4 linked regions of the Homo sapiens genome follow. The protein of the gene in region 2 purifies or fractionates together with the protein of the main gene of each other region. This does not show direct contact. Each region holds a gene or a part of one and is shown on either strand. Other genes may lie near its edges.

Region 1 (3,500 bases), on a different chromosome or scaffold from region 2:
GGAAAATATACAGCAGTAGGAATCAAAATGAAAAAGCTAGAACTCATCATTAATACTGACCTGATATGTATTTGTACACTGTGAAATGTTAAAATAAATGGAATGTGTAGTTTTCAGTTCCTGGAGTAAGAATCGGCTGGGCATGGTGGCTCACACCTGTAATCTTAGCACTTTGGGAGGCTGAGGTGGGAGGATTGCTTGAGCCTAAGAGTTTGAGACCAGCCTGGACAACGTAGTGGGACCTCATCTTCACAAAAAAGTAAAAAATCAGCTGACTGTGGTGGCATATGCCTATAGTTCCAGCTACTTGGGAGGCTGAAGTGGGAGGATTGCTTAACCCCAGAGGTCGAGGTTGCAGTGAGCCGACATCATGCCACCAGATTCCAGCCTGGGTGACAGAGCAAGACCCTGTTCTCCCCCACCCCCCGAAAAATAAAAATAAAAAAAAGAATCTACTAATGTGCTTTGAGGGCAATGCTAGCTAGGGTCACTCATATCTCTGGATATCTAGCAGGGCTTTTGAAAAGGGCAAGGGCAAGATCAAATAGGAGAAAGATAGTTTCACAGAGCTGCACTGAGATTCTCCAGATGTTATGCTATTAATTGTTAGTTGGGGTTTTTTTTAGTTGCATTAATTTTGTCAGCCAGTTATTGTTGAAATGTCATCTATGTCTATACATTAGGTTAATGCAAACTATATTATAGATAATTCATAACACTTGAACCCATTGATTTATTGTAACTTCACCAAAAGGGAGACAGTAGGAAGTACACTTCCCACCTGTGAACTCTTCCCCCTCCCCCACCCCAATCCAACTTGAATATATTCAAGGCTCTGAGTCTAACTAGCAATCTATATGAAATAGAAATGTAATATGAATGTTAAAAGACACCGTGGGGTTGCATGCAGTTGAACCAAGAATGTGAGAAATAAGACAGTAAAATGACCAGATCCTTGGCCAGAAAATGGGGAAGGGGCATTACAGATTAAAAGAGTCTTAAGATACAAAAGCCAATCAAATGCAGTTTTGGACCTTATTTGGATCCTGATTCAAAGAAATCAGCTGTATAAAGATATTTATGAGATAGAGAAATTTGAATACCAAGTGGATATTAAATGCTTTTAAGGAGTTCTTGTTTTTTGTGTAGTTGTGTTACAAAAGGGTACTTTATCTCATAGAAACAGACATGTATGTTTTTAAAAGTGAAATGATACCTAATTTGGGATTTACTTTAAAAACAATAAAGGGTGGGCCTGGTAGAGAAGTGGGCAAGTAGCATAGATAAAGCCAGAGTGGCTATGTATTAATAATTGCTATATATTGGAGGCAGCTTCATGCAAGTTTTTTATACTATTCCATAATAAAGCTTTTATAGCATGTCATCTCAATCCTGCTCATTTGAGAATAATTTTAATCCACAAGTAGAAAAGTAGTTAATGTTTTGTTTCTCAGAGCCTTTCTTTCATAGAAGCAAAATCTGTGAAAATGCAAAGTGGTTTGATGATATTTTTTTCAGGGTTTGTTGAAGTCATTTTAGCTTAACTTGCCTGCTTGAAGGTGGGTTTGGTATCTTGAAGCCAAACGTGCAGGATTTAGTGGATGTATTGCTGATTCTTGTTATTTGTGGCAGTTATGTTCTCTAAAGTCACCTTGATTACTGAATTAGTGAACACTGAATAATTTCCCCTAGGGGAAATACAGGGTTAGGTTCCTGCGAGCCTTTGCTTATAACATTTTCCTCAGTGGATTAATACATAATTTTGTTTTTTGTGTATTTCTCATTTAATATCTGTGGTTGATTCATTAACAGTGAACTCACAATCCTGGCCAACAAGACTATAACACGTGCCTGAGTAAAGCTTATCCCACACACATTTTCTCCAGACAGTACTTCATGGCCTTCTTGCACATGGGAACCCCAGACAGCACCTAAGGACAATGCTTGATGGGCCATTTCACACCATGAAATGACACACACACACACACAAATGCAAAAAAAGTGACACTAAACAGACCTTGAAAAGGATGCTTGTTATAGTATGAGCATTGAAACGAGAAGGGAGAGCATCACCTTGTTCAGCCTTAGCATACTGGAGTCTCAAATTTTTCACCTCTCTGCACTTGTTCACAAAGGACCATGAAAGCGCCTTAAGTATTGATTTTGGGGTTACAAATAAATTTCAGCAAGTAGGCAGATTTGTAAATATGGACTACATGAGCAATGAGGATTGATTGTGTATGTTAGATACTAATAAGTTATTTTTCTCCCAGTTTTTGGCTCGAAGCAATTCTGAATATATATGTTAAATATTAGAAGTTGAAGAGTAGTTATATATTTTGTGAATGGATTGAAGTTGCAGAGTAATGTGAAAAGTTCAAATGTTTTATACAAATCTAAAGTTGACTTATTTGAGCATGTTATGCTTAATAATATAGTCAACATATATTATAAAACATATATAAAGCACAATATTTTGAATTCTTAAATTGGTATAGATGATCTATATCTGAGTAAACTTTAAGAAAATGTTTATGTAATGCACACAAAAGATAACTTGATTTTTGTCCGAAATGTAGACAAACATTTTTTTGTATATGTAGCATTTTTTTGGATGCGGAGACTCGAAGAGCGATGGGAGAACAAGCTGTAGCTCTTGCCAGAGCAGTAAAATATTCCTCTGCTGGGACCGTGGAGTTCCTTGTGGACTCTAAGAAGAATTTTTATTTCTTGGAAATGAATACAAGACTCCAGGTAACAACAACTGTTATTTATTCCTCTCCATGCCTCTGTACTTTACCCTTCCTTCTCCACCCTTTTTTGTTTTATAAATGTTAAAAAATTAACTCCATAAAGTGTTAAATAAAGATTTAGTTTTTATGCTTGTGCTAAGACATCTGTTAGGAATGACGGATAGTATCCCTCTAAAGTTCAATGTCTAGACCTCTGCTTTGTCACTGTTAATACTTTATGTTGGAAATACCACTTTGTTTTTTTCTTGAACCTTTCTAGATGAACTGTATTTGTCAGTGTGTATGTGCTGTTAAGAAAAATTACTCTAGATATTACAAATAGGAAGTGATACAGTGATTGCAAAATCTTTGGAAGGATGGAGGAAGGAAGGGTACCCAGAGTGAACTTCGGTGGTGACTCCCACTGCTGTACCACTCAGCCAGGCTCCCAGAGGAACCGGCACCTCTGCCACAGTGAGGACGTTGAGAATCAAGTGGCTGCCCTTGGAACTGTTGGCTTTGGGGGACATAACTTCCTTAGTTCTAACCAAATCTCAGGAAGCGACTGGCGTTGTAACCGGTGGCTTTATTTCCTTCCTTCTTCCCTTTTTTCTTTCATTTAAATTGTGAACTATACAGAAACATACATAGAACACAGGTGAATAATTGAATGTATTATTATAAAGCAAAAATCAATGTAAACATCAACTGGGCCTAGAAGTATTTACAAAACAGCCAGCTCTTTTTACACTAGCCTCATTTTCTTCT
Region 2 (3,500 bases):
CTGTGTCAGTACTTCATTCCTTTTTATGGCAAAATAATATTCCATTGTGTGGATATACCACATTTTGCTTATAACGGTTTGATAACCAGCTCACAAAATTCTTGAAAATTTAAGTCAGCTCTTGGAAACTGGCATGAGTTGGTGCCAGCATGCCACTGACGTGCACTAGTGAGTGTAGACTGTTCAAGAGAGTTTCTGCTCACCCCAGAGACTCTTATGAACATTGACAGACCTTTTTAAAAAGTACTGGCCGTGTGATTTTATCCTAGACTGAGATAAGAAATGTGGCACTAATGAAGACAAGGCTCAGTGCTACATGTTGAAATACAGGCTCATAGGCTTATAGGATGTTAGAATAGGAAGGGATCTCAGAGTCCAGCCTTTTCATTTTATAGGTGGATTTTGAGGACCAGAGAAGTTAAATAACTTGTCTGAGATAGTTATTAATTGTGGGCATTGCTATATTTTGTTACTTGGTATAGGTAACCTCCCGTGCCTCTGGGTTTATCCAGCAGTTTAGCTGGATATATCTCAGCATTTGGAAATGTTTCTCTGTAGAAGTCTGAACTGAATCAGAATATACCCTAGGTCTAGACTTCAGGTTCCCTCAGCCTCCCAGGGTAATTCTAGGAGTTTTGGTCTGTTCTAGCCAACAGTCTCAGATATGGCTGTGCAGACAGCTGCCTTACATTTAGAAATAACCCCAAAGAGGACTATAATTCCCTTTGGAAACATGACCTGGGCCATTCTCTCAGGGATTTCTTCTCATTTGGGTAGCCCTGGCACTGAGCTTAGCCATGTGTGTTTCACGTGGAGTGGAATTTTTTTAAAAAGATCTAGTTAGAAGGCAGGATTGGGAAACAAGGGGCGGGGCATGACATTACTGTTTTGCCTTGAGCAAATTTCTTGAATACTAGGTAGACCCCCCTCTCTGAACTATTAAGTTCAAGAACTATTTCAAAGTTAAATATCAGGCTCAAATTATCTGCTGTTTTGAATTGTATACACACTTTTAACTAATGTGAGAAATTGAGTTGGTTCTATACTATTCTTGAGTTGATTACTTTGTTCTTCCTATTGTATGTATGATGAATTTTCACCAAAAATAAGTCAGACCATGATTTTTAGAACATCTTCTGAGAATTGTTTGGGTATTAAAAGTGAGGCTTTATTTTCTTTTCTTTCTTTTGTTTTGGTTGTTTTCCTTTTTTTTTTCCTGAGATGGAGTCTCACTCTGTTGCCCAGGCTGGAGTTCAGTGGTGCGATCTTGGCTCACTGCAACCTCCACCTCCCAGGTTCAAGCGATTCTCCTACCTCAGCCTCCCATGTAGCTAGGATTACAGATGCACGCCACCATGCCTGGCTAATTTTTGTATTTTTAGTAGAGACAGGGTTTCACCGTGCTGGGCAGGCTGGTCTTGAACTCTTGACCTTGTGATCCGCCCGCCTGGGCCTCCCAAAGTCCTGGGATTACAGGCTTGAGCCACCGCGCCTGGCTGAAAGTGAGGCTTTATTTTCAACTTGCATTTGGGTGAAAGAATCATTCCATTGAGCATGAGTCTATATTTCAGATTTCAGAATCTCAGATCAGAGGAATCTATAAATTTCAGACATTTCTTTTTTTAATTTTATTTTATTTGAGATGGAGTCTTGCTCTGTTGCCCAGGCAGTAGTGCAGTGGCATGATCTTGGCTCACTGCAACCTCCACCTCATGGGTTCAAGCAATTCTCCTGCCTCAGCCTCCCAAGTAGCTGGGATTACAGGCATGCGCCACCATACCTGGCCAATTTTTTGTATTTTTAGTAGAGACAGAGTTTCACTATGTTGGCCAGGCTGGTCTCAAACTCCTGGCCTCAAGTGATCCACCCATCTCTGCCTCCCAAATTGCTGGGATTACAGCAGACATTTGTTTTCAAATAGGGTGTTAGCATGCCCTGCCATGTTTCTTAAGATACATAAGATATTGTTCAGTTTGTGGTGTCCACAGGACCATGTGTGTCCATGTTCAATTGCAGTGCTTTATGAAGGCCTCAAATTGCTCAGTGGCCCATAGCGCTAGACCTGAGTCTGTTTGCTCTCAGTTCTGTTCCTCGCCCTTTCGCTGCTCTGTATCTTTGGGGGGTTAGCCCGTGTAGGCTGTGTTTATCAGGCCCATGTGTCCATTGGTGTTCTGTTGGTTTCAGCCAATGGGAAGGCAGAAATGGGAGGGGGTCTCCACCTCCTCTCCCTCCCCGCAATTCTAGTTTCCCCTGATGACCCTGGGTTCTGGTTTCACCATCTCCTCCCTTCTGGCCTGCTTGCCTGAGGGTGCTAATGGCTTCCTGCTGTAGATGATCTCTAGGGTGCCTCACTGACCAGTTTGTCTTCTCAGCTCTTCCATCATCTGTATGATCAGTTCCCTGAATTAAAGTCTCTCTGTTTTAAATGTTCAGGTGGTTTTTTTTTCCAGGCTAAACTGACTGATACACCCACATTGTCACAACTTAGAAAACTTCAAAACGTATTCATCCCTCAGGAATATTCAAACAGTTCAGGACACCTTACTTCAGAGTATAATGCCTTGGAAGATAGACACGTGACCTGTGATGCCACCAATGGCATATGGTTTTATGTATGGGTCTGTATGACATATTGACATAAGGGAAGGAAAGAGAACCCACATACTTTTGTTAGAACCATAGATACTATACTTTACAAGCTCTTTTACACCTTGTGTTTAAGAGAAATTGTAGTGCAGTATTGTGCCAAGCTGTCAGAAGACGTAGTATGCAGTCAGTTTTTGGGACGTGGGCAAACTCTAGATTCTTACTCATTGCCAGCACTCAGGGTTATATAAAATGTTTGCAGTGCGAATTGTGTACCTAGCCAAAATTGCGCCACTGCACTCCAGCCTAGGCAGCAGAGTGAGACGGAGTCTCAAAAAAAAAAAGAGAGAATTGTGTACTTGATCACATTCTGGTTGTTTAGACGTGGATGTGTGGCATGGGTGTGTAAAGGAGCCCCTTCCAAGAAGATACCTAGCTTAAATACATTATAGTTCTTATCAGTATTCTTATAGTCTAGACTCAAGAAGAGGTCTGCCATGGGTGAACTTGAGCACAACAGATTCCAACATTGAGGGTGTGGAAACTCTTCAAGAGAATAAGCAGTTTCTTACCAGAAACCCCTCAGCTAATACTGAATAAACAATTGAAGAGTATTTTAAGGAACAAAGAAGAAAGGAGTGAGAAGCTGATGACCTGAAGTTTTCACATGGGACTAATTTAGGTAGTGTTAATCTGCTTGCTCTTATTCCATGGTTAAATATTGGTTTATTTGTCTTTAGGTTTTGTACAGTATTAGAATACTGTGAGGGAAATGATCTGGACTTCTACCTGAAACAGCACAAATTAATGTCGGAGAAAGAGGCCCGGTCCATTATCATGCAGATTGTGAATGCTTTAAAGTACTTAAATGAAATAAAACCTCCCATCATACACTATGACCTCAAACCAGGTAT
Region 3 (2,597 bases), on a different chromosome or scaffold from region 2:
GAACCAGCTCAGCTGGCTCTTTGTGTTTGTATACTTTAGGTAGAAGGTACATTCAGAAAGTGACCCTAGAGAGACTGCCCCAAAGAGTGAAGGCCTCTGGGGAGCTCTGAGCAGGTCACTCTGGATCTTAGCCAACTCACCACAGATGCTGGGCTGGCGCCTCTGGAGCAAGGCACCCCTCAATACCAACCTTCCCGAGGGAGGAACAGCATAACATATCTCACCCACAGACCCATGTGATGGGAGGGATGCCCAACAGTGCTGTAGGGTAAAGAAAAATCTACCTCTGTGAAGAGCAAGAACTAGTATTGAAGTGACTAGATGCCACAGTCCTGCTGTAAGAGCTAAGGAGCAGAGGTTCCTCTCTGTGTGGAGAGAGGGCGGGAAGGAGACCTCTAGTTGACTGCATAACCCAATCACATCTAATTCCATTTCTGCCCCCAGTTCTCTCTGCCCACCCATAGTCTATCCTTCAAGAACAACAGGCAGAAGCATTTTCTCACCCCCACCCCACATCTCCTTCCACTCCCCGACTGAAGGGGCCAGAGTACTGGCTGCCCTGAAATCAGAGCAGCAGCTAAAAATGGAGCCTTGAGGCGAGAGGTAGTTGTAATGACTACTGATGGGAACTCTTCAGAGAAGGAGGAATAGCTGCCAGGTCAGATCCCTGACTGCTTTGCCCTCTTTTAGCCTGGGAGATTTTAGGAGCAAAATCACTGAGGAAATGCGTTCAGTGCTTGAACATCATGGTGAGGCTCCTTGCCAAGGTCTAGAGTCGGAAGGCTATCTGTAGCTTTCCTTTGCCAAAGGTCAGTTTCCCAGCAGGCCCTCAAACACTTCTGTGTGAGAGGGAAAAGGGACGAAGAGGGGATAAACCACAGGGCAAAGAATTAGGAAGTGTTAGCAAATGCTACCATGTGGAACACTCAACTTTATTTGCTTTATTTATATATTTAACAATTCTAAAGTATTTACTTCTTGCTTTGACAAAAAATGAAAAATATAGGAGCACTGACTGACTCCTCTTTAGGAGAAAAGGGTTATATGTACAGCTATGGAGAGTTACGGTTCCTCCTTTAACAAAGGAAAATATTAATAAAAAAGTGCTTCATCGATCAAAAAAGAGCTAAGAGCTGCAAGCATTTATTCACACTGTACATCAGACCCAAGAAACCCGTATCATAACCTCTTGGCACCTGTCACTAGGAAATGCACAATCTTCAATTAGACCAACTTTTTCCCTACCTGCACGACTAGATGACACAGAATGTGGAAAAGAACTACACCCTGTTTCACCACGTTCAAACTGTGTTGCCACTGGAAGTCAGAGACGTGCTCAGATGCTCTGGGCTTTGCCTGGACTGAGAGCACCAGGGAAGCCTTCTGGGCCACGCCTTAACCACACCCAGGCATGCACAGAACCACCTTCCTGAGACACACCTTGCCCTTGGTCAGGGAACTGCTACCAAGGGGAAGAGGAATACAGGGCAGGGCCAGAGCTTAAGCATTCCCTGACCTTACCCCTAGTCCTCACCATGATCCACCCTGTCACCAGTTAGCAGCTTTCAGCAGAGTCAAGCATGGCCTCCCCAAGAGGGAGGGCAGGCACAAAACATGGATGCCAAGATTACAAAGCACAAACCTAACTCTTCTCCAACCTTCCCCACACCTACCTCCACAAATATTCTTGATTTAAGGCTGTTTTTGGACCATATCAAAGCTCACTGAGGAAAGGTGCCCTGAATCTCCTCAAGGCCATGTCACTTCTCTAAGGAACCCTACGAAGTCACCAAGTGGCCCTTCACTGCTGGCCAGCAGCCAGACAAGTGCCCACTCAGACAGCCAGGAGTGGCAAAGGGGGACTGCTCAGCAGTTATTCCTGTCCCAAGAAGAGAAGAGGAGAAAGGCTGATTGTATGGGACCTGCTCCCTTTTCCAGGGGCTTGTAACTCTAAAGGCTGATTCTACCCCTTAAAGGGAAGATCCATGATTGGTTTGGTTTGGGAACGGGGGATTTCTGGAACCCTGAGTCTGGATTTCCCTGTGCTGGCTGAGGAAGAGATTGTTTAGGGGACCAGGCCCCAGAATGGGGACCCAGGTGTGTCTGGGCTCAGGGCAGGCTTTGGCCTTGACTGCATAAACATTTTGACCAGTCTGTACTCATGCCTGAGGGTGGGAAGTGCTACACAGCCTGGCCCAGGAAAGCAGCCCCCTGAAAGTAAAAGGAGCCCAAGACAATCTGGGTCAAGTTAAAAATGGGATCCCACGGGGGACAACATGACGGCTACCCACTCCCAGCCCCTCGCCTGCCTCAAAGGAGCATCCACTTTCCTTTCCCAAAGAGGCGCCTAAGGGGATGCCATTTACCGTGTGCCTCTCCCTCCAAACATCAGCCTCATTTATCCATCTGTGAGGGGACTGGCTCAGCTCCTCGCAGGAGGGAGATGATGCCCAGGGCAGTGCTCTTGGGGAATATGCTTCCAGCCTCCCCAGCAGCAAAGGGTTCCCAACCAGCTCTGATGTGGCGGTGGCGTGAGGAATGGTTGCATGTTAGCACTGGCTTTCTTCCCTGCTCACGGTCTCAGATCTCCATACTCC
Region 4 (3,500 bases), on a different chromosome or scaffold from region 2:
TCCTCTGTCTGCTTCCTCTCCTCTCTTCCTCTCATCTTCTCTCTTGCTTCCTCCACAGAAGAAGCTGGTTAGTTTGATCTCACGCAAGCTTATTAATGTCCCAGTCCCAGTTTCTAAGCTGCCTAGGCCTCCTGGCCCTCAGTTTGGGCCCGCTGGGCTCTTGAGCACGGATTTTTTTCTGCCCTTTCCCTTTTCCTTGCTCTTCCCCCTTTTTCTCTCTATCTCTTGTTCTCTTGACTGCATTTCTTTCTCTCCCTTCTCCCCCGGCTTTCCAGATCTGGATGTGATTCAGGTTCTCTTTTGTACACATTGCACACTCATCCTCCTTGCGTCCTAAAGCTTTTTTTTTTTTAGTTGAGTCATTTAATCAAAAAGACTTTTTTTAGAAAAAAATTTCCTCTTGAGCCATCATGCACATCTGACTGCAGCCCCAGCGAGCCCTTCCTTCCTTGTCTGACTGCTCTTCTTCTCGATTTCTTCTTGTTCTGCCTTCTCGGTTTGCAGCCCTGACCCCCGCTGTGTGTCTGGCCCTTGGTGACTGTCCGTGTTTCTGTTCCTGTCATTGTAACTGTGACTTTTCTCTCTGTCTGCCCCCCCTTCCTACTGGTTCATGCTTCTCCCCCATTCCCACCCTCTCTGCCCGGCCTCCCGCTCCCGCCCTTTCTCCTCATGCACCCGGCCTCGTCTCTGTAGTCTCTGCACTTGTCTCCCATTAAGGTCCCATCCATGGGGGGGCGGAAGCGGGAGCGCAAGGCTGCCGTCGAGGAGGACACCTCCCTGTCGGAGAGTGAGGGGCCCCGCCAGCCCGATGGGGATGAGGAGGAGAGCACAGCCCTCAGCATCAACGAGGAGATGCAGCGCATGCTCAACCAGCTGTGAGTCCGCAGGCCGTGCTCCCGCAGCACCGACGCCACAGCAGCCCAGGAGGCCGGAGCTCCCCAGTCCCCCGCCAGGACGAGGCCCCGCCCGCCCTGACACCCGGGTTCCCTGTCTCTAGGAGGGAGTATGATTTTGAGGACGACTGTGACAGCCTGACTTGGGAGGAGACTGAGGAGACCCTGCTGCTTTGGGAGGATTTCTCAGGCTATGCCATGGCAGCTGCAGAGGCCCAGGGAGAGGTAACCTCTGCTCCCGGCCTCAGGGCCCTCTGGCTCTGCCTCTCCAGCCTGAAGCCCACTCCCCCGCTCCTCTCCTTGCTCTGTCCCCCCATGTGGCTGTCATCCTCTACCTGCGTCTCCCCTCTTCCTTTATCCTTTTGCTTTTCTTTCTCCAGTTTCTTTAACCAGACTTCCTCTCTCTCTCTCTCCCTGACTTGGCCCTTTGGAATGCGTCCCATCCCATCCCTCCTTGGCTGGCCTCCCCCGCTTCCCTTTCTACTCCAGCAGCAGGAAGATAGCCTGGAGAAGGTGATTAAAGATACGGAGTCCCTGTTCAAAACCCGGGAGAAGGAGTATCAGGAGACCATTGACCAGATAGAGGTAAGGGCAGGAGCGGAAGCCAGGGGCGTGGTGTCCCAGAGGGTTTTGAGTGGGGCTGCAGGCGCAGTGGCCTCATCCCTGCTGCAGGACCCTAGAGACCAAGGTCTTGGGAGGAGGAGTGATCTCTCAGCTATAGTCCTCCTGGTGGGCTCTGAAGACCTCAGGCTCTGGAAACAGACAGATATCGGTTCAAATCTCAGCTCTGTTACTTACAACCACCCTGAACTTGTAATAAGTTACTTGTTCCCTCTGAGCCCCTCCTTTCCTTTCCTTTCCTTTCCTTTCTTTCCTTCCTTCCTTCCTTCCTTTCTCTCTCTCTCTCTCTTCCCCTCCCCCTCTATCCCTCCCTCCCTCTCTCCCTTGTCTTTCTGTCCTTTCTTTTTTGAGACAAGGTCTCACTCTGTTTCACTCTGTTGCCTAGGCTGGAGTGATCCTCCCACCCCAGCCTTCTGAGTAGCTGGGCCCACAGGTGTGTGCCACCATACCCAGCTAATTTTTATTTGTATTTTTTTGTAGAGATGGTGTCTCCCTGTGTTTCCCAGGCAGGTCTTAAACTCTTGGGCTTAAGTGATCCTCCTGCCTCGGCCTCCCAAAGTACTAGAATTAGAGACATGAGCCATGTGTCCAGCCCTACACCTGTTTCTTTTTCTTTCTTTCTTTCTTTCTTTCTTTTTTTGAGACAGGGTCTTGCTCTGTCACTCCAGGCCCACTGCAGCCGTGATCTTCTGGATCCAAGCAATCCTCCTACCTCAGCCTCCCAAGTAGCTGGGACCACAGGCGTGTGCTACCACGCCCGGCTAATTTTTTGATTTTTTTTACAGAGAACAGGGTGTCACTATGTTTTCCAGGCTGCCCTCAAACTTCTGGATTCAAGCAGTCCTCCTAACTCGGCCCCACAAAGTGTTGGGATTACAGGCATGAGCCACTGTGCCGGGCCTTTTTATTTGTAAAATGAGGAATTTAATAATACCTCACCTATAGGGTTGTTTAGAAGATCAGATGAAATAATGCATATATAGAGCTTAGGGCAGTGTCTGGCTCATAGCGAGTGTAGCATAGTGGGGACTGTTTTATTATTATTAACACTATCAGTGCCATGGCACTCAGAGATGGACTGGGACTTTCCTGTTTCTTCCACTCAGCCTTTGAGATAACAGAGAAATCTCCATGCTTTTTCCCAAGCCTTGAAGTACCTTCTAGAGGTACCTAGAGGCAAGTGGAGCTGGTGCTTTAGCTCAAACTCTAGGCTTTAGGAGCTGCAAGAAGGATTTGTGGAGGCCGGGCGCGGTGGCTCACGCCTGTAATCCCAGCACTTTGGGAGGCCGAGGCGGGAAGATCACGAGGTCAGGAGATCGAGACCATCCTGGCTAACACGGTGAAACCCCGTCTCTACGAAAAATACAAAAAAAAAAAATTAGCTGGCCGTGGTGGCAGGCACCTGTAGTCCCAGCTACTCGGGAGGCTGAGGCAGGAGAATGGCGTGAACCCGGGAGGCGGAGCTTGCAGTGAGCCGAGATCGCACCACTGCACTCCAGCCTGGGCGACAGAGCAAGACTCCGTCTCAAAAATACAAACAAAGGAAGAAGGATTTGTGGAACCACAGAATGGAGGTTGCTGTTGCTGTGGGAGGAGGGATGGACGGGACCCCCGTGAGCTCTCCTGGCCTGGTGAGGTGGTCCTTTCCCGACGCTCTGACTTTGGGAGAGGCATGGAGCCTTCTCTGCGTCTCAGCCTCTCTTCAGGCCCACATGGGAGATTCATACGTAGTCCCCCCTTATCTTCAGGGCATGTGTTCCAAGACCCACAGTGGATGCCTGAAACCAAAGATAGCACTGACCTCCTGATAGCTTGGGTCCAGTTGCTGTCAACTGGAACGTGTTTCTGTTCATGTCTCCCACCCACACATTCAATGCCTTTTCTATCTTAACTAAGCACTTAGCGTGCGCTGTGGCGGTACCTTTTGCAGTTCGAGGTGTGACAGCAAAACTGGCACAAATTTCTTTTTCCTTCTTTACAATTTCA

The links.
Region 1: the proteins of TLK2 (region 2) and PCCA purify together in Homo sapiens (affinity purification with mass spectrometry; one large-scale study listed by BioGRID and IntAct). This does not show direct contact.
Region 3: the proteins of TLK2 (region 2) and MTMR3 purify together in Homo sapiens (affinity purification with mass spectrometry; one large-scale study listed by BioGRID and IntAct). This does not show direct contact.
Region 4: the proteins of TLK2 (region 2) and IFFO1 purify together in Homo sapiens (affinity purification with mass spectrometry, with the first as the bait; one large-scale study listed by BioGRID). This does not show direct contact.

The regions. Positions count from the first base shown.
Region 1 is NC_000013.11:100,270,593-100,274,092, forward strand, and holds part of PCCA (propionyl-CoA carboxylase alpha chain, mitochondrial isoform a precursor), read left to right. Parts: intron 1-2,603; coding exon 2,604-2,754; intron 2,755-3,500. UniProt on the Homo sapiens protein: This is one of the 2 subunits of the biotin-dependent propionyl-CoA carboxylase (PCC), a mitochondrial enzyme involved in the catabolism of odd chain fatty acids, branched-chain amino acids isoleucine, threonine, methionine, and valine and other metabolites.
Region 2 is NC_000017.11:62,597,325-62,600,824, forward strand, and holds part of TLK2 (serine/threonine-protein kinase tousled-like 2), read left to right. Parts: intron 1-3,326; coding exon 3,327-3,496; intron 3,497-3,500. UniProt on the Homo sapiens protein: Serine/threonine-protein kinase involved in the process of chromatin assembly and probably also DNA replication, transcription, repair, and chromosome segregation. Phosphorylates the chromatin assembly factors ASF1A and ASF1B.
Region 3 is NC_000022.11:30,026,174-30,028,770, reverse strand, and holds part of MTMR3 (phosphatidylinositol-3,5-bisphosphate 3-phosphatase MTMR3), read right to left. Parts: 3' UTR 1-2,597. UniProt on the Homo sapiens protein: Lipid phosphatase that specifically dephosphorylates the D-3 position of phosphatidylinositol 3-phosphate and phosphatidylinositol 3,5-bisphosphate, generating phosphatidylinositol and phosphatidylinositol 5-phosphate.
Region 4 is NC_000012.12:6,546,043-6,549,542, reverse strand, and holds part of IFFO1 (non-homologous end joining factor IFFO1), read left to right. Parts: intron 1-58; coding exon 59-67; intron 68-693; coding exon 694-875; intron 876-997; coding exon 998-1,118; coding exon of another isoform or gene 1,119-1,382; coding exon 1,383-1,478; intron 1,479-3,500. UniProt on the Homo sapiens protein: Nuclear matrix protein involved in the immobilization of broken DNA ends and the suppression of chromosome translocation during DNA double-strand breaks (DSBs).